Homo sapiens: one gene and its partners. The protein of the gene in region 4 purifies or fractionates together with the protein of the main gene of each other region. This does not show direct contact. Each region holds a gene or a part of one and is shown on either strand. Other genes may lie near its edges. The genes, in order: DPH5, SUCLG1, NIT2, CCS, ATOX1, POGLUT3 and PPA1.

Region 1 (3,500 bases), on a different chromosome or scaffold from region 4:
CCAAAGTGCTGGGACTACAGGCATGAACAACCGCACCCGGCCTCACACCCATGTTTTCAGAATCCCAACGCATTAATTCATTCCACAAACACTGAGTGTCTGTTAGATGCCAACCACTGTTCTCAGTGTTGAATCCACAAAATATATTGCTATTTCTACTCTATTATACTGCTTATCATTTCGTAAGAATAAAAATGCTTAATGTTCACACTGTTAATGAGAGCTCATTTTCAACCATCTTTAGAACTCAGGTCATTTAAGTAGAATGTATTGAATTGTTCAAGGAAATAAAACACATGTATGCATTCTCAGAATAATAACTTACTTGATTAGATTTTCCAAAGACTGCTCCTTTACTTTGATGTCTGTAGGAAGTAAAAATAGTTCTTTTAATTTAATTAAAAGCTTTATCCAAAACCCTATGTGTAAACCTCAGTTAAGAGTCACCTAAATTTTGGGGAAACACTCTTCCCTCACATTTTAATTAGCCACTTTCTTACAGTAACATAGAGAAGAATGGAAGCTTGTGGTTGTGCCACTAGTTAGAAAACAAACATGAACTTGGCCCTGAGACCATCCTGCTAACATCTAATTTCCTTTTGGAAAAGAAGACAAGGGAAAGAATTAGATAAACATTGGCATATACACTACTAACAGCTAATCACAATCTTTGTTTTCATTTCTACCAGCTAGTAACTGCACAGACCCATCTGAAAGCCCTTTGATAGATGTAATGTAAGTAGAAAAAAATCTTTTCCACATTTAAAAAAGTCTTTTGCTTTCTGACGAATGTTAACACATGCCATAATTTTGAATAAATACTTTAATTCTAAGTATTCATGCTTTTAACAGGGATTTGAGCATGGACTGTGTGTCAGACGCTGCGTCAGAGACTGGGATACCACAGGGACCTGACCAGATATAAACTCTGCTCTCTAGAAGCTTGACAGTCCAAGCATCACAAATATTTGATTCGGTATACTTTTTAATCACTCATGCTCAACTGAACTATTTGGTAAAAGGTAAAAAAGCAGAATCACTCTACATCCTCAAAGGAACTCAGTATACAACAGCAACAGCAACAGCTGCTTCCTGCTTTACATGCTGAAAACAAATGGTTCAGCCAAAGTTTGTTTTTGCAAAAATAAACATAGTGCAACTGAGGAGTCTTTAATAGACTTATGCAGATTTCCTAAGTGATTATAGAAGTGTTTCTTATAAAGGATATCAAAGAGTTTGCTTGGAAATTATAGCAGAGTTAATATTAAATACATATTTTTAAATGTTCTTGGAACCAGCATTGAAAGCCTTTTTCAGGTTTGAAATATCATTATTTATTTAATATTTCTACTTGTCTGTCACATTATGGAGAAAAAAACGAATGCCTGTTATTAAGAATGTGGCCTCCCTATAATCAATGGTGTTAGTCAACTTTCAGATTTCCTTTAAATTACGTTTCTAAGATTTTAAAAATTTTAACCCGTTTATTAATTCATTCACTCTGAGCTTCTGAAATGTTGTGATGAGATTTTTCATATTTTCAGTTGTCTTTACTTTTCAAATATGCTCTATAGAATCTGATTTTTAAAAGGAAGAGGGTTGAGGAGAATTTTTAGACGCAAATCCTTTTTAATCAAGGAGTGCATTCGTGACTTCGTCTCAAGCCAGACCCCGCATTACTTTTCCCTTGTCTTCACACAGTCCATAATTATTCCTCTCTATTTCTACTTGCTAGAATGTAAGGTTCTCTGATTCATCTTAGTACCAGGACCTAGCATAATGTGAAGTACCCAGAAGACACTCCATAAATGTCTACTGAATAAATTTACTCAAGTGACTCTCCTACCACTCAGTCACCAGCCCATATTAAACTATCCACTCTCTGGGCAACGTAAGTCCTAACTCCTTCATAAAGTCTTTGTTGACTTCTCCTCAAATGCTTTTTGTTCTTGGAAAGATCTACACAATTAATGCTATCTTTTATTAACCTCTAATTATATCATATATATTGGTCTTGTCTTTCTAAGTAAATTTTAAATTCTCTGTGTTTTCCTGCCATGGTTTATCCTCACTAATCCCTATGGAACTTAACCCACAGCAGGCATTGAATAAATACATACTAATTTAAATAATGAGAATGCCAGATGATAAAACGATGAGAACTATGGTTTGAGGATTTGAAATCATGACATCCTATACTTCACACTCTGTTCCTTCCTGCTTTTGTTAATGGAGCAAGGAAGATACATTGTTTAACCTTGTTTGTCTTTTCCCAGGAAAGCTAAGAAAAGGGGCAGCTCTTAGAAGGACAACTCAAGAGCCACATTTCTAGTTTGTCCTTCCTGCCTCTCCATACAATAGAATTTTTGTTCTTTAAACTTTCACGTGCACAACACATTAGTTCCAAACTAGATTTCAAAGCTTTGAGAGCAGGACCCACGTCTACACTTCCTTAGTATTCCAAAAGAAACTAACTCTACATGGGGCATAGGGTAAGCACTCAATAAATACCTGTACACTGATCTTCTATCTGCCTTTCCAAAGCTTCTGAAAAGATAAGTGCTGCTTCCTCTCCTTCCTATCTTTTTTTTTTGCTTTTGAGAAGGAGTCTCGCTCTGTGGTCCAGGCTGGAGTGCAGTGGTGCAATCTCAGCTCAATGCAAGCTCCGCCTCCTGGGTTCACACCATTCTCTTGTCTCAGCCTCCCGAGTAGCTGAGATTACAGGCACCTGCCACCACGCCCGGCTAATTTTTTGTATTTTTAGTAGAGATGGGGTTTCACCGTGTTAGTCAAGATGGTCTCGATCTTCTGACCTCGTGATCCACCCGCCTCAGCCTCCCAAAGTGCTGGGATTACAGGCGTGAGCCACCGCACCCGGCCTTTCCTGTCATTTTTAATGGATATATGGGGAGGTTATCAGGTAGCCTGCCTCTCAGATTCTTCCTTCCCTGTTCTGTTTTAGAACCTTTCAGTACTGTTATAAAACATATATTCTAGTATCTGAGCTCCAATGAATCCCCATTTTTCATCCCTCAGATACATCTACTTCTTTAGCAAAAGTCCTTTTAAAAATTATCCTTCGCCCGTCATCTACTTTGACCTTCTACCCACAGCTGGCCTTAACTGGATCTAACTTTGGGATAACAAGATGGATATATCTGATGGCATAGTCCACACCAACTCACAAGTCTTACAGTGTCCTTGTTAGTAAGGACTATAAAAAAAGTAAGACCAGTCTCTTTTTACAAGGAAAATTCAAAGACAAAATTATAAAGATAATTAATGATGAATGAAGCACTAAATCACACTGGCAATAAACTAAAATAAGAAAACATCATACTAGCTGATTGCAAATATTGGCATAAGACCAAAGAAAATGTGTTAGAGAAGCGTTTATGGCCTAATCTAGATCTATAATTAATTAGATGCCAAGAATAAAAGGGGGGCCGGGTGCAGTGGCTCAAGCCCATCATCCCAGCACTTTGGGAGGTTGAGACGGG
Region 2 (3,500 bases), on a different chromosome or scaffold from region 4:
TGTGCCTTTTACACCCTTCTACTATTAAATTCAGCACACTGGCTATAACCTATTCCCCGTGTGTTCTTCTACTAAACTATGAATTCCCTGAACACAGAGGTTATATTTTCACTAACTTCGGTATGCCTGGCACCTACTGTAGTACCTATGGTATAGAATTAAAAAGAAAAGACTCCACAAATTATTTACTCATTCACTCATAAGATCTACATAGAATATGAGAATCTCATGTTTGAGTGGCATTAATTTGTATTTGATTCCACTCCCCTGTTCCCCAAAAAGTGGGAATATTGTTGCACTAGAAAGGATCAAGACTTTGTTGAGCCTAGAATGGCAAACAAATTTGCATCTGTCCCATTAACAAAGAGCCATTGGAGGCTTATTTGTTTTTGTTTTTTAAGTGGAGAGAACTACAACTAAAAGACTATGGGGAAGTGTAGTCTGAAAATAGGACACAAAAATGATGAAAGGTATGTCTAAAAACAGAAAGGCCAGTTAGAATGCTATCAGTGTAGTCTGAGCCTATGCCCAGGATTGATGACTCTTTGTCCTTAACTCCTTCAATCTGACACCTCATCCTTCCATGGTGAAATGGAGAAGTCAGACAAACCTGGGTATGAATCTCACCCCAGTTCGTTTGCTGTATACCTACCATTGTCAAGTTACTAATCTTCCTGTACCAGTTTTCTCATTCATAAAGAAAGAACAAAAACAACTTACCAAAGCATCAGGATAAAAGTTAAACACCAGAACGTTTGCAAATAATTATCATCATTGTAATGATAACAAGAAAGGCAGCAGCAGATCATGTTTATCGAGTGTTTACACCAAGTATTACACTAGGCATTTTATATAATGCAGCATCTGAACTGCTTAACTTACAATCTTGTACACATTAGGTTCTCAATAAAAATTAATTCCATAACAACTAACCAGGAATAGGAAACATGTTGCCAAATGAAACAAAATGTCTATGTTTCATTTTTCCCACTAAATACTAGGCTATTCCAGGGATTCAGAATTGGGCCCAAATACATTTTAAATTCAACTTAACACAGCACAATGCTGTATTAACCGAAACTTTTTTTTTTAAAGAAGTCAGTTTTTACTTATATTTCAAACTGTACAACTTTCTGAACACAAGGGAATCTAACATTTTACTCCAATCCTTAACAATCTACTCTTCCATTTACATGACCTGTATTGGTGCCCACTGTGCCAGGGGACTGGGCAGGGCACTGAAGTTAACAGTTCCCTGCAGTCCATAACACAGTCTAGAGTGAAAGTCAGATACTAAGCATTCCTTGCAGAAGGAACAAGCAAAGGCAAGTGAGAATGAAAACTGGCATGTCAGATGGAAAACTGATCTAAAAGGGAAGGTTTGGATGGTATGTGAAGGACTGGAATACCATGCTAAATCTGCCTTTAGCTGACATGTAATGGGAAACATTACATGGGAAACACTGTCTGATGTGAACCAAGGACAAACAGCACCAATACCCATGTTTCAGAAGGGCAGATAATTTGGGTGGCCATAAACAGAATGGCCTAAGAGTAAAGGGGGGTGGTTGGAGAAAATAAGAGAGATCAAGAAGGAAACCACTGAGATGGTCCAGATGAGATGGGATGAGGACCCAAACCAAAGTAGATGGACTAAGTACAGACAAGGCTCTGAATCCAGACAAACCTCTGATGTCTCAGAGACAGATCTTGGTAACTGAGTAGAAACAGGATAAGAGAGAAATAAAAGTTAGTTCTCAGGTTTCTGCCATAGAAATAGGCACAGAAAATAGATCCAGGGAATGATAAAGAGGAGGAAAACCAGAAAGAAACCAAGAGGATGGAGAGGATGACGAATGAATCAAGGCCACTGGTGACCTCTGTGCAAACACAATGTCAGGAGAGTAAGAAGATTCCACAGCAGCCAGTGGCTCAGTAAGAGTGCTTACTAAGTGCCGGGCACTACTTTGCTATACGTTACTAAGTCATTTAAACTTCGCAGTCCTTACAATAACTCTAGGAGGCAGGCACTACTATATCGTCATTTTTCCAATAAGGAACCTGAGGCAACGAGAGATTAAGCATTCCCAAGGTCATATAGCTTCTAAGTGACAGACAGGAGCCTGATTGCTGAGGATTCAAGAATGAATGAAAAGTAAGGAAAGAGAATGAGAGAATGAGGGTAAACCTGAGTCATATCTAATATGGGAGTTAGGGCTTAAAATCACCACAAAAGAAAATCAAGTATATTCAAAATAGCCCTTGAAAATTCCTTAAAACACAAATAAATATGCCTTGTTTTGTGTAAACCACCCTGTACATGATATTATTGGTTCCTTTAACTCTCCAGTATTATTTTATGTGGCATTTAATTCATTCACTGGTGGATTTTTTTCATACATATAGAGAGAAAGTGATCTCCACTCTCTTGCCTGGTCCCCTGAAGAAAAATTTTCACTCATTCCTCAGTATAAGAGAAATTCTGAAAATCAGTTGCTTGATTTTTTTCCCACAGTTCTCTGACACAACAATGGCCACAGCACAAATTCACTGAGTGGGGGCTGGTGGCCACCACACTGCTTCAGTCACTACCGCACCCCCATCTCTCCTTTCACCACAGGAACAGGGCTTAACTCCCTCAAGCTGAATGAAATGATGACATAACTCAACACTACTCCTTTACATTTAATTCTAAGTGAGAAGCAACAAGGAAAGCCTCCCCAGGACATAGACAGTAAAGCTTTTCTACTTGATCTCTGAAGGGAAGTGCCATTCCACAAGGAAAGTCTAAAACTGGAAGGAAGCCAGAGCCTGAAAAAAAGCACAAGGGATAGGATCTTTAGGTCAGCCTTGAAAAAGAGAAAAAACCACTTATTTCCCTCTGAGATCGGGAGAAAGAATACTGGTCACAGGTGAAAACCAAGTCTGCAGGTCAAGTGCGGGCTCTCGGGCTGATGGCCTGAATGTATCTGTTCAGCAGGAGAACGACTTACCTACCACAAAGTGTGGGGTGATGCCTGGGGAGGAGAGTTCAGAATAGAGAAGCAGAGAATCAACCCAGAAATAATACAGAATTGTCTGAGTGTCCAGTATAGAAGGCCCTGCTCAGAAAGTTTTATCTTTCATGTTTTCTCAAAAAATTCACCTTTGAAAAAATAAAAATAACTTCTGAAACAAGCCTCTGATATTAAGAGCAAAGAGCTATGTTTTTCCAAACCCAAACTTACTGAATTATGTTGCTTCAAAAATTCTGCAGCATTCTCTTCTGCATTACCACCAATTTCACCAATCAATATGATGCCTTCTGTGGCAGAATCGTTCAAAAAGATTTCGAGGCAGTCAATAAAATCTGTTCCATTAAAAGGATCACCTCCAATGCCTGAAAAAGTTGAAAAATATCAATAGCTGGAAATTTAAGGGTGAACCATGGAATTTAGGTCAATAAATGTTTTTAACTAGTTTGTCATTTTTCTTACCCTTCTCTCTTATATTTTTAAATG
Region 3 (3,500 bases), on a different chromosome or scaffold from region 4:
ATTTGTCAATTTTGGCTTTTGTTGTCATTGCTTTTGGTGTTTTAGACATGAAGTCCTTGCCCATGCCTATGTCCTGAATGGTAATGCCTAGGTTTTCTTCTAGGGTTTTTATGGTTTTAGGTCCAACGTTTAAGTCTTTAATCCATCTTGAATTAACTTTTGTATAAAGTGTAAGGAAGGGATCCAGTTTCAGCTTTCTACATATGGCTAGCCAGTTTTCCCAGCACCATTTATTAAATAGGGAATCCTTTCCCCATTGCTTGTTTTTCTCAGGTTTGTCAAAGATCAGATAGTTGTAGATATGCGGCGTTATTTCTGAGGGCTCTGTTCTGTTCCATTGATCTATATCTCTGTTTTGGTACCAGTACCATGCTGTTTTGATTACTGTAGCCTTGTAGTATAGTTTGAAGTCAGGTAGCGTGATGCCTCCAGCTTTGTTCTGTTGGCTTAGGATTGACTTGGCGATGCGGGCTCTTTTTTGGTTCCATATGAACTTTAGTTTTTTCCAATTCTGTGAAGAAAGTCATTGGTAGCTGGGTATATACCCAAAGGACTATAAATCATGCTGCTATAAAGACACATGCACACATATGTTTATTGCAGCACTATTCACAATAACAAAGACTTGGAACCAACCCAAATGTCCAACAATGATAGACTGGATTAAGAAAATGTGGCACATATACACCATGGAATACTATGCAGCCATAAAAAATGATGAGTTCATGTCCTTTGTAGGGACATGGATGAAATTGGAAATCATCATTCTCAGTAAACTATTGCAAGCACAAAAAACCAAACACCGCATATTCTCACTCATAGGTGGGAATTGAACAATGAGAACACATGGACACACGAAGGGGAACATCACACTCTGGGGACTGTTGTGGGGTGGGGGCAGGGGGGAGAGATAGCTTTAGGAGATATACCTAATGCTAAATGACGAGTTAATGGGTGCAGCACACCAGCATGGCACACGTATACATATGTAACTAACCTGCACATTGTGCAAAGTTACCTTACTGCATAAGCCAGTGGTTCTCAGCAAGGAGCAATGTTGCCCACCAAATTTGACAATGTCTAGAGATCTTCCTGACTGTCGTGACTAAGGAGATGCTACTGACATCGAGCAGGTAGAGGCCACAGATGCTGCTAAACATCCTACCATGCACAGGACAGCCCCCACACAAAGAATTACACACCTAAATGTCAACAGTGCCACTGCTGAGAAAGCCTGCTATAAGCTAACATAAGAGAAGAGCTTCTCTGGTTAAAGCAAGTCAAGGTGGCCGGAGAGAATGGAGTGGCCTTATGAGAGCAATACACCTTGCAGGCCACATGGCGCTTCCATGCCCATGGTGGCAGTCCCACCACCTCAAATAGAACAAAAATTGCAGCTCGCAGTCCAGGTACACCAAAGCACCTCACCTCGGAGCCCTCGAGACTTAACAGACCCATGCTGGGTCATCTCAGTATCCCAGAAACTTCTCACTTTTGACAAAACTGTACCTTCACTGATACTCATGGCATCTTATACCCCTACCCCCATCTTCCACCATGCAACCAGCTAAAACCTCTTTCCCTTACATTAAACATTACCACCATCTCTAGAAGTGAGAACAGCAGCTACCTCTAGGCAGAGGGAGGAGTACTAACTAGAAAGGGGCAAAAAAGGGAGCATCCTCGGGGGCTGGAAATGTTCTGTTATGTTCATCTTGGTGGCAGGTGAATACACAAAAATTCACCAACCTCTATGCTTAAAATTAGTACACTTTTTTTGTATTACTTCAACTTTTAAAAATTCTAAAGAAAACCATCATCTCAGACCAGCATTTCATGGGCTGTAGAGCACTTTACAGACAGACAGACACACTCACAGTCACATTCATTTTCCCTTCCATCTTATGTCCACCTATGCTATTTGCCCTTCACCACCTCTCAGCCTTAGAAGACTAAGGAAAGGCACCTGTGACCTGCCAAAGATGCTTGTGCAAAGCCCTGGAGTTATAGGTTAGAAGAACAAGAGCTTCTCATGAGTTTCTTGGCACAGTACCCTCAGGACTAGTAGGATGGTGTGAAGGAGGGGGTAGGATAAGCATCCTGATCTGAATGGCATAGAATCAGCTGGGTACAGACCACAAATCTCTCCCTAGGTCAAGCTAAACTAATCCCTGCCTTTTAATTGGCTTCTGGGGCTCTGAAGACATAAGCTCTGTGGTTCTCAATTTCTCTGTAAAAGTTGCTGGAACTGACTTAAGAGGGACCAATCCACATCTAATCACAGAAAAATGAAATCCCTTCCCATCTAATACACTGAATATTGAAAATGCCAAAACCACAGTTCCGGCAGGGCTTGGGGCTCACACCTGTAATCCCAGCACTTTGAAAAGCTGAGGCGGGAAGATCGCTTGAGGCCAGGAGATTGAGACCAGCTTGATCAACAGAGTGAGGCTCTATCTCTACAAAAAATAAAAAATTAGCAAGGCATGGTGGCGCATGTTTGTAGTCCCAGCTACTCAGGAGGCTGAGGCAGGACGATCTCTTGAGCCCAGGATTTCAAGGCTGTAATGAGCTATGATTACACCACTGCACTCCAGCCTGGGCAATGGTAAGACCCGTCTCTTAAAAAGAAAAAAAAAAAAAAAAAAGTACAGTTTCCAAAATCCATGAGGTTGGTATTGTGGCTTCTGAGGAGAAAGTGACGTGCAGTAGAAGTCCTCCTTATAGCTTCATCCTTTCCAACTGCATTTGGATACAAGGGCATCCTGAGTCAGGGACAGAATCCACATCAGGAAGGCTGGCACCTCCACCCAACCGGAAATCTTTCTACAAAGAGGACATGCCGAGAGGCTTGAATATATGGTTCCTTTCTTACCGGCTTCGCTGAAGTAACTCCCAATGGGCTGGTCCAGTGGTCAGATTAAAAGCTCCTGGATATACCAACAGCTGGCAGCCTTGGGGAGAGAAAAGCCAAAGAACAGTGGATGCAGTGAGCACTCAACAAAACCAGTCCTCCCCACTGTTCCTTATCTAGCAGGAACTGAACTCAAACTTTCCCAAACATAAAAAGATGTCAGCCAAGTCAGACAGTGCCAGCAGCAATTAAGATATGGCTCTGAATTCCTTTAATACGAACACGTAAGTCACACACATATGGACACACAAGAAAAGTGGTGTTGATGACCAAAATCACATGTGACTTTGAGACAGAAATAATACAGGACGGTCGCAAGAGAACAGAAAATTCCAGGCAGCAGTTTCATATGACTAGCAAAAAGAAACTGTTGAAATAGCTGCCTACGCTAGGGGCTAAGACCCTGAGAAACTAGGGCTAAGACCCAGTGGACTCAATATGGTGCTGGGTTTGACCTAGGTTTCACCTAGGACTTCATTATCCTCATTATAAGCTCATTAACATACTAAATCACACACCCACCCGTGCCATGATAGTTTCTGGAACACCCGTATTTGGTGAAAAAATGAGTGGCACAATTCCGAGA
Region 4 (3,500 bases):
ACACTGGGCCCTCACCAATACTCTGTGAGGCACATACACACAGGCACAACCTCCAGATGAGGAAACTGAGGCTCACAGAGGTTAAATGACTTGCCAAAGGTCCACAGCAGGTAAAAGGTAGAGTTGGGGTTTGAGTCAAGATCTGACCTTGGCTGGGCACAGTAGCTCACACCTGTAATCTAGCACTTTGGGAGGCTGAGGTGGGCGGATCACCTGAGGTCAGGAGTTCAAGACCAGCCTGGCCAACATGGTGAAACCCCATCTCTACTAACAATACAAAAAAAAATTAGCCAGGTGCAGTGGCATGTGCCCATAATCCCAGCTACTAGGGAGGCCCGTAATCTCCTGAGGCAGGAGAATCACTTGAACTCAGGAGGTGGAGGTTGTGGTGAGCTGAGATTGCACCACGGCACTCCAGCTCAGGGGTGACAGGGCAAAACTCTGTCTCAAGAAAAAAAATAAAATCTGATCTTGAAGGTCCTGCTTATAACCACCTTACTGCCTCTGAGATGGAAGGGGACTTCTGGACACAGCAAAGGAAGGGTCCCCATGCCATGGTGTTTGTCATGCTGTGATATAACTAGTTGTTTACTCATCTGTGAGTCCCCTGAGCCAGAAGCTTATTCAGGACAGGACCCATGTCTGATTCTTCTCGGTGCCCTCTACCCAAAGCCCAGCACAGAGTAGGCCTGTTTGTTGAATGAATGAATGAATGAATGAATGAAGCAAATATAAATAGATGAGAGGGTAGAGCACCTGGCCTGTGAGCTGCTTTCCTGCCCACCTGTTTCCTTTCTTTCTTAGCTGTGGGAATCACTTTAACCCTGATGGAGCATCTCATGGGGGCCCCCAGGACTCTGACCGGGTAAGTGTCTGTCTGGGTTTGGGCTTGGGCTGAGAGAGGACCCAAAGTCTCAGAGGCAGGGCAGGCAGCTCTTGGGATCATAACAGTGTGATTCCTTTTTGGTGGAGTCTTTTCCTCTCATTTTATTTTGCTGAGTTTGGAAACATTTGTTGACACTTTCTGTGATCAAGGCCCAGGGGATACAATAGATTACAGCCCCAGTGCCTGACCCAAGGAGCACACAGTCTCTGGGGGAGATTACTGAATTCCATGGTTTCCAGGCAGTGAGATCATCCTTGCAGGAGCCTGCAAGAGGTCCTGGAGCCCACAGTGAATAGTTCATCTGCCTGAGGGGCAGGGGCAGTGGGAGGAAGTGAAATATGGAAGTTGAGGGTTTTACCTAAACTGAAAAGGCTGTCCCTGGTGTTCCCTAACACCCCGGTCCTGGAGTTTCATTTTTCAGCAGAGAATCATTTCCCAATCTTCAGGGAATTGTGTGTTGCCTTAATGATTTTTGCCTTATCTGAGTACTAGTTGTATTTTTAGTTACTCAATCATTTGGTTTTTTTATTTTATTTTCTGAGATGGAGTTTTGTTCTTATTGCCCAGGCTAGAGTGCAATGGCGCAGTCCCAGCTCATTGCAACCTCCGCCTCCCAAGTTCAAACGATTCTCCTGCCTCAGCCTCCCTAATAGCTGGGACTACAGGTGCACACCACCACACCCGGGTAATTTTTGTATTTTTAGTAGAGATGGGGTTTCACCAGGTTGGCCAGGCAGTCTTGAACTCCTGACCTCAAGTGATCCACCCACCTCAGCCTCCCAAAGTGCTGGGATTACAGGCGTGAGCCACTGTGCCCGGCTCTGACTGGGCTATTTTCTATCTTGATGGGTTTGCAACCTTGTGCCACAAAACAATTGAAACCATGGTATGTGTTGCTTAATGCATGTTACTGATTTTTTGGACTTTTCACAGCTCTGTTACCTATCATGCTTTTCTTTTCTTCTGTTTCTTTTCCTTTTCCTTTCTCCCCTCCCCTCCCCTCCCCTCTCCTTTCCGAGATAGGATCTCACTCTGTTGCCCATGCTGGAGTGCAGTGCTGTGATCATGGCTCACTACAGCCTTGAACTCATGGGCTCAAGCAATCCTCCCACCTCACCTGATAGCTGGGACCACAAGCATGTACCATTATGCCCAGCTAATTTTTTTTTTTTGTTTTTTTGGTGGTAGAAATAGGGTGTCACTATGTTCCTCAGGCTGGTCTCAAACTGCTGGGCTTGAGCAGACCTCCCTCCTCGGCCTCCCAGTGTTAGGATTATGAGCATGAGCCAGCATGCCTGGCCTCTGCCACATTTTTTTTTTTTCTTTTTCTTTTTTTTATTTTTAGTAGAAACGAGGTTTTGCCATGTTGGCCAGGCTGGTCTTGAAGTCCCAACCTCAAGTGATCCGCCTGCCTTGGCCTCCCAAAGTGCTGGGATTACAGGCATGAGCCACTGTGCCCAACCACCCTGTCACATTTCTAATGATCAAAAGTTTTTACTCCCTGTTCTGGGAAATTGGAGAGGCATTTCTTATAGAGTCCATTGCACAGTGCCATGCTTATGCTCAGTGATTAGTAATCTGCTGCTGCAAATCAAATGACTCCAAAGTTAGGAGTTTAAAACAACAAACATATACTGTCTCTGGGGCAGGAATTTGTGTGTGACTTAGCTGGGTGCCTGCAGCTCAGGGTCTCTCTCGGGGCTGCAGTCATCTCAGGGCCCCACGTGGGGAGAATCTGCTTCCAGGTTTGCTCATGTTGCTGTTGGCAGGCCCCAGGTCCTCCTTGGCTGTTGGCCAGAGACATCAGTTCTTTGCCACATGGGTCTCTCCCTAGGGCAGCTAACAACACGGCAGTTGGCTTCTCTCAGAGTGAATGAGCGAGAGAGAGAGAGATTGAGATTGAGAGAGGGCGTCCAAGACTCAAGCCACATTCTTTTTGTAACCTAATCTTAGAAGTGACACTAGGTCCAGCCCACACTCAAGGGAGGCACATCATAGAGGCCATTCGCCTCATGCAGCCTTGAAAGATGATGGGCAGGAAGTAGGCATTGAAGAGGGTAAGAGTGGGATTGGCAAGCCCAGCAAAAGAAACTGCCCGGGCAAAGCCCTCAAGGCATGGAATGGCAGGGAGTGTTTCTGAAGGGCAGGAGCCTGTCTTGTGACCTGTGTTTTCTTCCTGGGCCCCAGGTGGGGCAGGGAATCAGAAGGGGCTGGCATCAGCAGCTGTACCTCACCCAATCCCTTAACTTAGACAAGGAAGAACTGAGCAGGAGCTGACCAGCCAAGGCCACGGTGACTGGCAAGTTGCTGTTGGGTTTTAGCATCTGCTTTTCCCAGGTGGAAAAGAATTCCATGTGGGAATTTGCATTCAAGCCTGGTTGTCCCTTGCACATCTCCTAACTGATCTCTAAGCTCCCTTCTGTTCTCTCCTCACCCTGCTCCAGTCTTTACTTTTCATAGACTGCACTAGAAGGATTGTTCTGAAGCCTGGAGTAACCAGGCCATGCCCCTGCCTGAAACTTGTCTTGGCTCCCAGTGCCTGAGAGTACAAGCTGGGCCTAGCTTCTTGATGTGGACATTCAATACCCCACTCCCCCTGCCTATTGCCCCTGCC
Region 5 (3,155 bases), on a different chromosome or scaffold from region 4:
GATTTTTTAACCAGCAATCACTGCTGTAATTAATTTACATGTTTCATTTCATTTAATCCCCACAACCACCATTTGCAGTAGATGCTATCATCACATTTTGTCTGTGGACACTGAGAGGTTAAGTGGCCCAGCTAGGAGGTACTGGAGCTTGAACTCTATCCCAGGCAGTTTGTCTCCACAGCCTCTTCCTACTATTCCACTTGCTTAACATTTGATAATCTCTTGTGCAATTCACTTGATAGACAAATTTTTTCAAAATATAGAGTCTATGAAACTGGTGAAAAGAAAGGGGATCACTGTTCTGGGTCAATGCCTCCACTTTATAGGTGAGGAAAAAATGAGGCCCAGAGAGGGGAAGTGATTTGCTAAAGATCACACAGCAAAGAATCAGAATCTACAGGGTGTCTGACTCCCAGGTGGGAACTCTCAAAACTCCAACCCAAGTAAGCATAACCACCTACATGTGAGCAAGCAACACCAAGACCAGGCAAGACAACATCTCCAACAAAAGCAGCTTGATTTTATTGCAGGGAAGCTAGGAAGGAATAGGACAACTGAGGGTCTCCGCAGGAACACCATCACCCGGCATGACTGCCAAGTCCCAGGTCTGTCTGGAAGCCAGCGGGAGGATCAGCATCCTAGGAAAGATGGAAAGTTAGATGGAACAAAGGTGCCATCTGGTGTGGACATAGCGACATTGCAAAGGCAATAAATGCACTAAGAGACAGGGGTGACGCAGGGGTGCACTAAGAGTCTTGCACTAAAAGGCAGGGGTGAGGTGGAAAACGCAGGGTGCAGATGCAGGAGCAGGACTAGAGCCCCAGTGTCCAGCCCTGCACACTGCTCCCATGAAGTCTGTTATACTTAGGTTGGCTGGAACGCATTAACCTTGCTAAGCCAATCACTGCCAAAGCCCTCTTCTGGGGAATTTCCAGGGCTGCCAGGATACCCAGTCAACAGCACTCTCTATCCTGTTACAGGTTGGAAAGGCAATGAACAAAATCATGGCAAATAAATCTGCCAAGAGTCAGATGATCAAGGTGACTTCAAAACCAATAAACACTCTATCTTTGAGGTTCCCAAGCCTGGCTTCAAATCAGTCACTGAGGAGCCTCTTAAAACAGACTTCAAAGACATGCTGCCTGAGCATGTGGACTAAAGCTGGCTTATTGGGTGATTCTTACTGAGTACTGTGCATCTGAATTTCCAGGAGCCTTTCCAAACAATACATGGTTACTGAAATATGTACAGGTAAGATTGCATGATGTCTAGAATTTGCTTCAAAATAATCTGGGCAGGAGGGAGTGGGCATGATGTCTAGAATTTGCTTCAAAATAATCTGGGTGTTTCATCACCCAGATGAAACAATGAGGACAGTGGAGTTTCTAATCCAAGATGTGTGCATTAGGGCTCCCCCACATGGATACAGATAGCTCCAGAAGAGTTTTTTTCCTTCTCTTCCTTAATTCCTTCTTGTCACAGAGCACTTTTATCAAAAAATAACAGGCCTTGGTGAAATAAATACTAACTGTTGGATCTGAGTGACGGGTACTTGGGGATTCATTCTATTACTCTACTTACACATGTTTGAAACTTCCTATCATAAAAAATCTAAAGTAGATTAAAAGTACCATGAAAATTATTAAGTATTGGAAGGAATGATTTACAACACATGCTATGACTTGAATGAATCTTGAAAACATTATGCTACATGGAAAAAGGCAGACACAAAAAGGTCACATATAATGTAATTCTTTTTATATGACATGTCCAGGGTAGGCAAATCCAGAGTAGCAGAAAGCAAATTAGTGGCTGCCAGGGGATGGAGAGATGGGTAGTGGGGAGTGACTTCTTAATGGATACAGGGTGTGTTTCTGAGATGATGAAAAAATTTTGAAACTAGAGAGAGATGGTGGTCATACAACATTGTGAACACACCAAATGCCACTAAATGATAGACTTTAACCCATTTATGCCTAGTGTTCCATTATTGGAACGCTAAGCTTGCAGGAGTTATTTATATCCTACTGTTCAAGGTCATCACCAAGGTTTGATTTTTCACATAAAAAACTTTGCAATATTCAGCATAAATGGGTTAAAATAGTTATTATGTCTTGTGAATTTCATCTCAATAAAATAACATGAGAAAACATGTTTTCTATGAGAAAAACACATTAAGCTACACATGGTTTACATCCAACAGATATTACTTTTTTAGTTAAAAAAGTTCGTATGCCCAGGCCTGGAGTTTCTAATCCAAGATGTGTGCATTAGGGCTCCCCATGTATATAGCTAGTTCAGGAAGAGTATTTTTTTCCTTCTCTGCCTCCATTCCTTCTTGTTACAGAGCGTTTTTATAAAATACAGTCTTACGGGAAGCCCAATATGACACAGGACCGTTTGGGAGCTATGGAGGGTCCAAAGCCCCATCCACTCACCCTCCCTACAAAACCCTAGGGGTGGAGGAATGATGTAAGAAACACTGTTCTTCAACATGCTGGAAACCGCTGATGTTTTACTTCCCTAGAGGATAAACTTTCATATGTGGAGAGATTGCACAGCAGTCCCCACAAGGCAGGAAAGCAGGTTGGAGGTTTTAGCCCCATTTTACCGATGGGAAGACCAAATCTCTGTAATGTAAAAAGTCCCCAAAGTCAGTGTGAAATGAGGAAAGTTGGAATTAGAATCCTAGATTCCTCATTATTCATCCTGGGTTCATTCCTGAATATGGGTTCTATCTATGGATGGAAAGTGCATGACGAAAACAGATGCATCTGACATCTTGTAACTTGCATGTGATGTTACCACATACACAGAACACTGCTATGACTCAGGTTCCAAATGTATGCCTTTGGGAAGGAGGCTATCCTCAAAGAGGACCTACCAGTCAGTGTGGCTAGCCTCTGTCCAGGGGGTCTCTGTGGGCCCATTCACAGGGACAATGCCACCAGTAACAGTTACAGAACTCCGATTCAGGATATCTGACTTTCTTCCTGCCTCTGCTACTCACCAGGGTGGGACTCTGGTTGAATCACTTCCCCTCTCTTGGCCTCATTTTTCTCAGTCACGTCAGGGCACCAAACCACATCAGAGGTGTGGCGATCATTGTAATTCACGAGTCAAATGCACTACATGGGCAGTGGCAGCCAGGAGTG
Region 6 (3,500 bases), about 42 Mb from region 4:
AAACTTTTTGAGTGCTGACACCACCACTTGGGTCGCTAAGATAGTGACACCTTTGCTTTCTGACAGTTCAATGTATACAAACTTTGTTTCATGCACAAATTATTAAAAATATTATATAAAATTACCTTCAGGGTATGTGAACAAGGTATATATAAAATATAAATGAATTTTGTGTTTAGACTTGGATCTCATCCCCAAGATACCTCATTATGTACATGCAAATATTCCCAAATCTTAAAAAATCTGAAGCCTGAAACACTCCTGGTCCTAAGCATTTCAGATGAGGGATACTCAACCAGTACTGCTATATCCATCTACATATATAAAGCCACCGGGAGAACTAGTCCACTTGGTGCAGTCTTCTATACTGTCCTTCACAGCTTAGATTCAATCTTTCCTTAAAGTGTAGCCGGGATACACAGGAGTGTGATTCTGGGCTGACTCAAAGTTCTTCTCTTGAAGGCTTTTTCCTGTGGCACTGGCAGATGGCTGTGCTATCTTCTGGCTGAGGAACAAGTTCCATTCCATCACGTACTTCGGGTTTGCTGGACTGGCGCTCGGCATATTTCTGAAACGTGGGTTTAAAGGGAACTGAAAGGTTAGTTCACACTGCATTCTGTTGACTCCCCCACCCACTCCCATCCGCAGTCACGCCATCTTTTCTAGTTGCTGTGTGTCTGCAGACTAAAACCAAAGGTCTGGTTTATTCCAGTCCTAAAGTTACATTTTAACTTTAGCTATCACAGGCACTAGTTATAATTCATAATCTAGCAAGAAACCCCAATCCACAATTTTATGTGTTGGTTGGAAGCCTCTACAAAAGGGATGCCAAGCCAGACGTCCCTACCTGAAACAAACAGCAGCTCTCAGCATTTATTTTCCACTTGTTATTGAATAATTAACTTTGTTGAATACTCAAGCCAGCAAACAAACAAGATAACCATCTGAAAAGTTGGCAGTCTCACACATTCTTTCTTTTAGGCCTATAGTCACACGCATTTTTGAATGGCAACAGGTCTGTGTAATGTTCCTCCACTGTGGCCCTGAGTGAAATATTTCTATAAATGGAGTTTTTTTTGTTTTTGTTTTTTTTTTTTTTTGAGACACGGTCTTACTCTGTCACTGAGGCTGGAGTGCAGTGGCGTGATCTTGGCTCACTGCAGCCTCCAACATCCTAGGCTCAAGTGATCCTTACACCTCAGTCTCCTAAGTAGCTGGGACTACAGGCGCGTACCACCATGCCCAGCTAATTTTTTTCATTTTTTGTAGAGATGGCGTTTCACCATGTTGCACAGCCTGGTCTTCAACTCCTGGACTCAAGCAATCTGCCTACCTCAGCCTCCCAAAGTGCTGGGACTACAGGCATGAGCCACCCTGCCCAGACATAAATTGGATATTTCAATTCAATGATTCCATGTCCCTTTTGCTGTATATTCCTGGTACTGGACCAAATGCAACAAAATGTTGACACAGTAGATAAGCCTAATTAATATTTTAGAGAGAGAAATTCCTAACATTAAAATTGAAACTATTTGGGAGGCTGAGGCTGGAGAATCACTTGAGGAACCAGGGAAACACGGCAAGAGCTTGTTTCTAAAAAAAATAAATAAATTAGCTGAGTGTGGTGGTGTAGTCCCAGCTACTAGTGGGAGGCTGAGGTGGGAGGGGGGAAGAATCGCTTGATCCTAGGAGGTTGAGGCTGCAGTAAGCTGTGATCATGCCACTGCACTCCAGCCTAGGTGACCGAGTAAGAAATATATATATTTTTAGATGCATTTTGCTCTTGTTGCCCAGGCTGGAGTGCAGTGGTGCAATCTAGGCTCACTGCAACCTCTGCCTCCCAGGTTCAAGCGATTCTCCTGCCTCAGCCTCCTGAGTAGTTGAGATTACAGGCATGTGCCACCACACCTGGCTAATTTTGTATTTTTAGTAGAGACGGGGTTTGACCATGATGGCCAGGCTGGTCTTGAACTCCTGACCTCAGGTGATCCACCCTCCTCGACCTCCCAAAGTGCTGGGATTACAGGTGTGAGCCACTGCACCCGGCCAAGAAATTGTTAAAAAAACTGTTTAACGATTAAAGCTAGACCAACAGAGGGGACAGACCAATTTAAGGGAAGGAAGGGCTGCTTCTAGTAAATAGTGTAACTTATCATTTTTATTTTTCTATGAAAATGAAAATATGAGAGGGTAGTATCCACAAGCATCTAGGGAAATTTACTTTTACTATGCCTACAGAAAAATAAATTTAGGTTAAAAACAAGAACATAATTTCCTTTTTTTATTCTTCCTGTCTAGATTTTTCTGAGTAAAACTCAAGGTAGTTACTCAAAAGACCAATCCTCGGATTCCCAATAAACACTATACTTCAGGATTCAGCCCTAAGGTGTTAGAACTGTTATACATATTTCTCATTAGTTTGTTTGCTACAGCAAGCTAAATATTTGCATTCTGCCTTGTACTATAAAAGGCATGAATCTTAAGTATCAAGGAGAATAAGGAGGCGACATTTTGAGTAAAAAGGGATGTTAATGATCTCCAGTCCAACCATCTTGTTTTCCAAATAAGAAAAAATGTTTTTCTCTGAGGTTCCAGAACACCTACACTAGGAATTCAATAAAGCATTTAATAAAAGAGAGCACTGAGAAGATGGGAGGAGTTGCTAATCTATATTTGTGAGGGCTCCCAGCGTCGTTTTACATAATATGGAATAAAGATGAAAATATGGAGGCCACGGCTGGGCGTGGTGGCTCACACCTGTATCCCAGCACTTCAGGAGGCCAAGGCAAGGCAGATCACCTGAGGCCAGGAGTTCAAGACCAGCCTGGCCAACATGGCGAAACTCCGTTTCTACTAAAAATACAAAAATTAGCTGGGCATGGTGGCGTGTACCTGTAATCCCAGCTACTTGGGAGTCTGAGGCAGAATTGCTTGAACCTGGAAGGCAGAGGCTGCAGTGAGCTGAGATTGAGACACTGCACTCCAGCCTGCATGACAGAGTGAGACTTCATCTCAAAACAAACAAACAAACAAAAAACAAAAAAAAGGGGGCCACCAAATGAAGACTTAGCACTATCTTTCCCTAGGCAAGTGCCTTGGCTTAGCCAGTGGTCCATAGGCTTGACTGTGAGTCCTTCAGGAAGCCAGGCAGGAAGTGTACAGGCCAAGCGGGTAGTCTGAGGACACCCGACCCAGCAGTGTGGACGGACACTCTGAACTGACCTGCAGTACTTGGTAATAGTAGCAGTAAAGCCTGTGTGGCTGTAGTAGGTCCCTAGCCATCAACTGTCCTTCTTTTGCAATCTTCTTGGCTTCTTCATCATTTTCCTGAAAGGTTAAAAAAAATAAAAATGAATGAAAATTACTACTGCGACCCACAAAGAGAGGGTTAAGTGTGAGGTGGGACAGATGTGGGGTTGAAAGTGAACAGCATGGGAAAGCCAGAACATAATGGAATTATAACTTAAGAATGAGGCTACAGGGGCCGGACATGGTGGCTC
Region 7 (3,500 bases), on a different chromosome or scaffold from region 4:
GGCTGGTCTCTAATTCCTAGCCTCAAGTGATCCTCCTGCCTATGCATCCCTAGTAGCTGGGACTACAGGTGCAAGCCATCCTGCCCAGCTCTGTACTTGTAAGGAGGGGGTGTTCCACATACTTTAGCAGGAATTACTACTAAAGAACAACCTTCTTCTAGACATCTGGCTACAATTCAAAGAGTTGCTACTAGGTGAACAACAGTGATATTTAGGATTTTTCAGGGCAACTGATATGAGAAATTCAATGAATTTTATAGCAACAGAGTTGCTATAAAAACTATTACTGTTTTTATGCATTCTAATGATTCCAATATTCACGCACTTAAAAAATACTGATTTTAAGAAATTTCGTACTACCCAGTTACAAATTCATTCCTTCTTCTTTAATCCCAACTGGTTTCAGCTTTTACTTAGCTGGATCTTGGATTTACTATCTTGTTACTCCCACTGTTAGGACTTCCCAGAACTCCATCCTCCAATCCTACCATGCTTTGGAGTCTCAGTCATTGCTCTGGCATCAGAGCTCTCAGCTCTCTGTTAACAGTTTCAGAAAAGAAGGAAGTTAAGTCTCCCTAGAGGGATGATTTTGATAAACTCAATAATTACCTTGCTGATAAACCAGTGGGGGATAAGGGAAAAGGCAAACTATAACTTTAGCTCTTGTTCCCAAAGTCAGAAATATAACTGTCTATTTCAGGCCAGGTATGGTGGCTCGTGCCTGTAAACCTAGCACTTTGGGAGGCTGAGGCAAGAGGATTGCTTAGACTAGGAGTTCAAGACCAGCCTGAGCAACATAGACAGACCCTGTCTCTACAAAAAAAAAAAAAAAAAAAAGTCTATTTCCCTTCCCAGATTTACAATCATTTTATCAAGTAGTCAAGATGTTACAACAAAACATTAAAGATGTCCAGATTCTAAGGAAACTGGAAACTCAACAACTCTACATTATGTCACTCCATTAATCAAAAATATTTAAAATAAAAATGTTTCAGGAATAGAAGAAATATCTCCTATATCTTGGTTAGGTGTGTAACTTCACTAATTAAACAGGAATATTAATCACAGTAGTATGGTGAGGCCCCGTCTCATCTCCAAACTGGTTAGGGTCTTATGGACCAAGTCAGTAGTCTGACAAGTTGTTTACTAATAAATAGGCTACGGCCATTTGGTAGGCTGTTATTACTAATGCAGTTAAGTACATATATAGGGAACATGCTCTTAATTTAATTACAGCACGTCTTTAAATCCTAGCAGTTAAGTTCAATGTGTCTTTATTGAGACTTATTTCTTATTTATTTATTTTATTTTATTTTTTGAGACAGAGTTTCGCTCTTGTTACCCAGGCTGGAGCACAATGGTGCAATCTCGGCTCACTGCAACCTCCGTCTCCCGGGTTCAAGCAATTCTCCTGCCTCAGCCTCCCGAGTAGCTGGGATTACAGGCATGCACCACCATGCCCAGCTAATTTTTGTATTTTTAGTAGAGACAGGGTTTCTCCATGTTGGTCAGGCTGGTCTCGAGCTCCCGACCTCAGGTGATCCGCCCACCTTGGCCCCCCAAAGTGTTGGGATTACAGGCATGAGCCACCGCGCCCAGCATTGAGATTTATTTCTAACCCTGGATTTGGTAAATTCGATGAACTATACTACAGAATTATACCAAGTGGCTGACATTAGCATTTTCAAGTTGACTCATTGTGTGTTTCTCTAGATAACTTCAGAAATCTAGTAAATACCAGGCTTAGAAAGAAACACAAAAATCACCCTGTGGTCCCACCACTCTTATTTATTTATTTATTTATTTAGAGACAGAGTCTCACCTGTCACCCAGGCTGAAGTGCAGTGGCATGATCTCAGCTCACTGCAACCTCCGTCTCCGGGGCTCAAGTGATCCTCCTACCTCTGCCTCCTGGACCACAGGCACCTGCCACCACACCCAGCTAATTTTTTTTTTTCTATTTTTGGTAAAGACCGGGTTTCACCATGTTGCTGAGGCTGGTCATGAACTCCTGAGCTCAAGCAATTCGTCCACCTAGGCTGCCCAGAGTGCTAGAATTACGGGCATAAGCCACGGCACCCAGCCCACCCCCCATTTTTTAATCTTTATTGTTTTGCAATAAAATTTGGAGAAAAAACAGTAGAGGTAGAGAGAATTTTCTTCTAAATTTATCTAGAGCATAAACATAAAGCAAGAAACTAATCCAAACCAAGCTTTAACTTTTTTTTTTTTTTTGGAACTTATAGACTAGTTTTGGAGTATAAAATCCCTATCAGAAGAGCTCACGTAGTTAAAAGAAAATGTTCCATCCCCATAAAGATGCTTTCGAAAAGGTATACCAGATTTCACCATTTCCAAGAATACTTTATCTTATTCACTGCTCACCAAATGACAATGGCTCTTAATTCTAAGTTTTGGCTGTAAAGTTGGTTATATGATTCTAGAAGGATATACTCTAAGTTGTTAAAAGTATATGGATACCTGAAGTATTTCATCGAAAGTGACAGAAGTCTATTTGAGAAGCTATCAGAAAGAAATACGATGACCGAAGTTCACACTGTTGTGCCCCTTATTCACTTAGAATTGTGACTTAGCAAAGAAAGACATGACTTACACCAACCCAAAAAACATTTGTTCAACAAATTGTGTTAAGATTCCAAGGGAGATCATTAACTTATTAAAGTAAAGAAATTAAAACACATACACACAAAACTTTTAGTAATACTCATTTGTTTTCCAGTTACATAGATTTTCTACTCATTGCAGCTCAAACAAATGCCTGTATTTGCTACTACACACTACCATATGTACCTGTGTAGAGCAATAACTTAATTTGTCATGTCATAATTAAGAATAAGCTGCTGGCTGGGTGTGGGAGCGCACACCTGTAATCCCAGCACTTTGGGAGCTGAGGTGGGTGGACTGTTTGAGCTCAGGAGTTCGAGACCAGCGAAAGCCTGTCTCTACCAATACAAAAAAATTAGCCAGGTACGGTGGTGTGTGCCTGTAGTCCCAGCTACTCAGGAGACTGAGGTGGGAGGATTGCTCGAGCCCAGGAGATGGAGCCTGCAGTGAGCCAAGATCACAGCACTGCATGGGTGACAGAGTGAGACCCTGTCTTAAAAAAAAAAAGAAAAAGAAAGAAAAAGCTGCTATTTTTGCTATTTTTTCTTTTCAGATAAGCTTTATGATGACTAAATTTTGAAAACAGATATTCTAAGCATAATCTGTTTATTTTCCTGTCTTTACAAAATCAAGCAAAAGGGTCTGCATTTCCAGTTGTCAAACTTTTCTGTTTTGCAATGACTAATAATTTTGAGCGTGGAAACTTCCCCAAGAAAAATGCATTTATGCCAAATTGCAGATAATATTCTGTTAAGTTTCTGAAGCATCAATCTATTTGATTAGAGGCTTGACTTTCTTTCAGAAGGGGAAAAAAGAAACACATATTCCATATTTATATATGCTTCTATACGCTCCCAACAATCACCTGAAAAAAA

The links.
Region 1: the proteins of CCS (region 4) and DPH5 fractionate together in Homo sapiens (co-fractionation; one large-scale study listed by BioGRID). This does not show direct contact.
Region 2: the proteins of CCS (region 4) and SUCLG1 fractionate together in Homo sapiens (co-fractionation; one large-scale study listed by BioGRID). This does not show direct contact.
Region 3: the proteins of CCS (region 4) and NIT2 fractionate together in Homo sapiens (co-fractionation; one large-scale study listed by BioGRID). This does not show direct contact.
Region 5: the proteins of CCS (region 4) and ATOX1 fractionate together in Homo sapiens (co-fractionation; one large-scale study listed by BioGRID). This does not show direct contact.
Region 6: the proteins of CCS (region 4) and POGLUT3 fractionate together in Homo sapiens (co-fractionation; one large-scale study listed by BioGRID). This does not show direct contact.
Region 7: the proteins of CCS (region 4) and PPA1 fractionate together in Homo sapiens (co-fractionation; one large-scale study listed by BioGRID). This does not show direct contact.

What each region holds. Positions count from the first base shown.
Region 1 is NC_000001.11:100,994,785-100,998,284, forward strand, and holds part of DPH5 (diphthine methyl ester synthase), read right to left. Parts: intron 1,295-3,500; exon of another isoform or gene 690-1,294; intron 366-689; coding exon 326-365; intron 1-325. UniProt on the Homo sapiens protein: S-adenosyl-L-methionine-dependent methyltransferase that catalyzes four methylations of the modified target histidine residue in translation elongation factor 2 (EF-2), to form an intermediate called diphthine methyl ester.
Region 2 is NC_000002.12:84,428,281-84,431,780, forward strand, and holds part of SUCLG1 (succinate--CoA ligase [ADP/GDP-forming] subunit alpha, mitochondrial precursor), read right to left. Parts: intron 3,380-3,500; coding exon 3,228-3,379; intron 1-3,227. UniProt on the Homo sapiens protein: Succinyl-CoA synthetase functions in the citric acid cycle (TCA), coupling the hydrolysis of succinyl-CoA to the synthesis of either ATP or GTP and thus represents the only step of substrate-level phosphorylation in the TCA.
Region 3 is NC_000003.12:100,348,257-100,351,756, reverse strand, and holds part of NIT2 (omega-amidase NIT2), read right to left. Parts: intron 2,955-3,500; coding exon 2,876-2,954; intron 1-2,875. UniProt on the Homo sapiens protein: Has omega-amidase activity. The role of omega-amidase is to remove potentially toxic intermediates by converting 2-oxoglutaramate and 2-oxosuccinamate to biologically useful 2-oxoglutarate and oxaloacetate, respectively.
Region 4 is NC_000011.10:66,599,685-66,603,184, forward strand, and holds part of CCS (copper chaperone for superoxide dismutase), read left to right. Parts: intron 1-804; coding exon 805-865; intron 866-3,500. UniProt on the Homo sapiens protein: Delivers copper to copper zinc superoxide dismutase (SOD1).
Region 5 is NC_000005.10:151,742,322-151,745,476, forward strand, and holds the end of ATOX1 (copper transport protein ATOX1), read right to left. Parts: intron 639-3,155; 3' UTR 501-638; downstream 1-500. UniProt on the Homo sapiens protein: Binds and deliver cytosolic copper to the copper ATPase proteins. May be important in cellular antioxidant defense.
Region 6 is NC_000011.10:108,474,385-108,477,884, forward strand, and holds part of POGLUT3 (protein O-glucosyltransferase 3 isoform 1 precursor), read right to left. Parts: intron 3,328-3,500; coding exon 3,223-3,327; intron 569-3,222; coding exon 443-568; 3' UTR 1-442. UniProt on the Homo sapiens protein: Protein glucosyltransferase that catalyzes the transfer of glucose from UDP-glucose to a serine residue within the consensus sequence peptide C-X-N-T-X-G-S-F-X-C. Can also catalyze the transfer of xylose from UDP-xylose but less efficiently.
Region 7 is NC_000010.11:70,223,430-70,226,929, forward strand, and holds part of PPA1 (inorganic pyrophosphatase), read right to left. Parts: intron 1-3,500.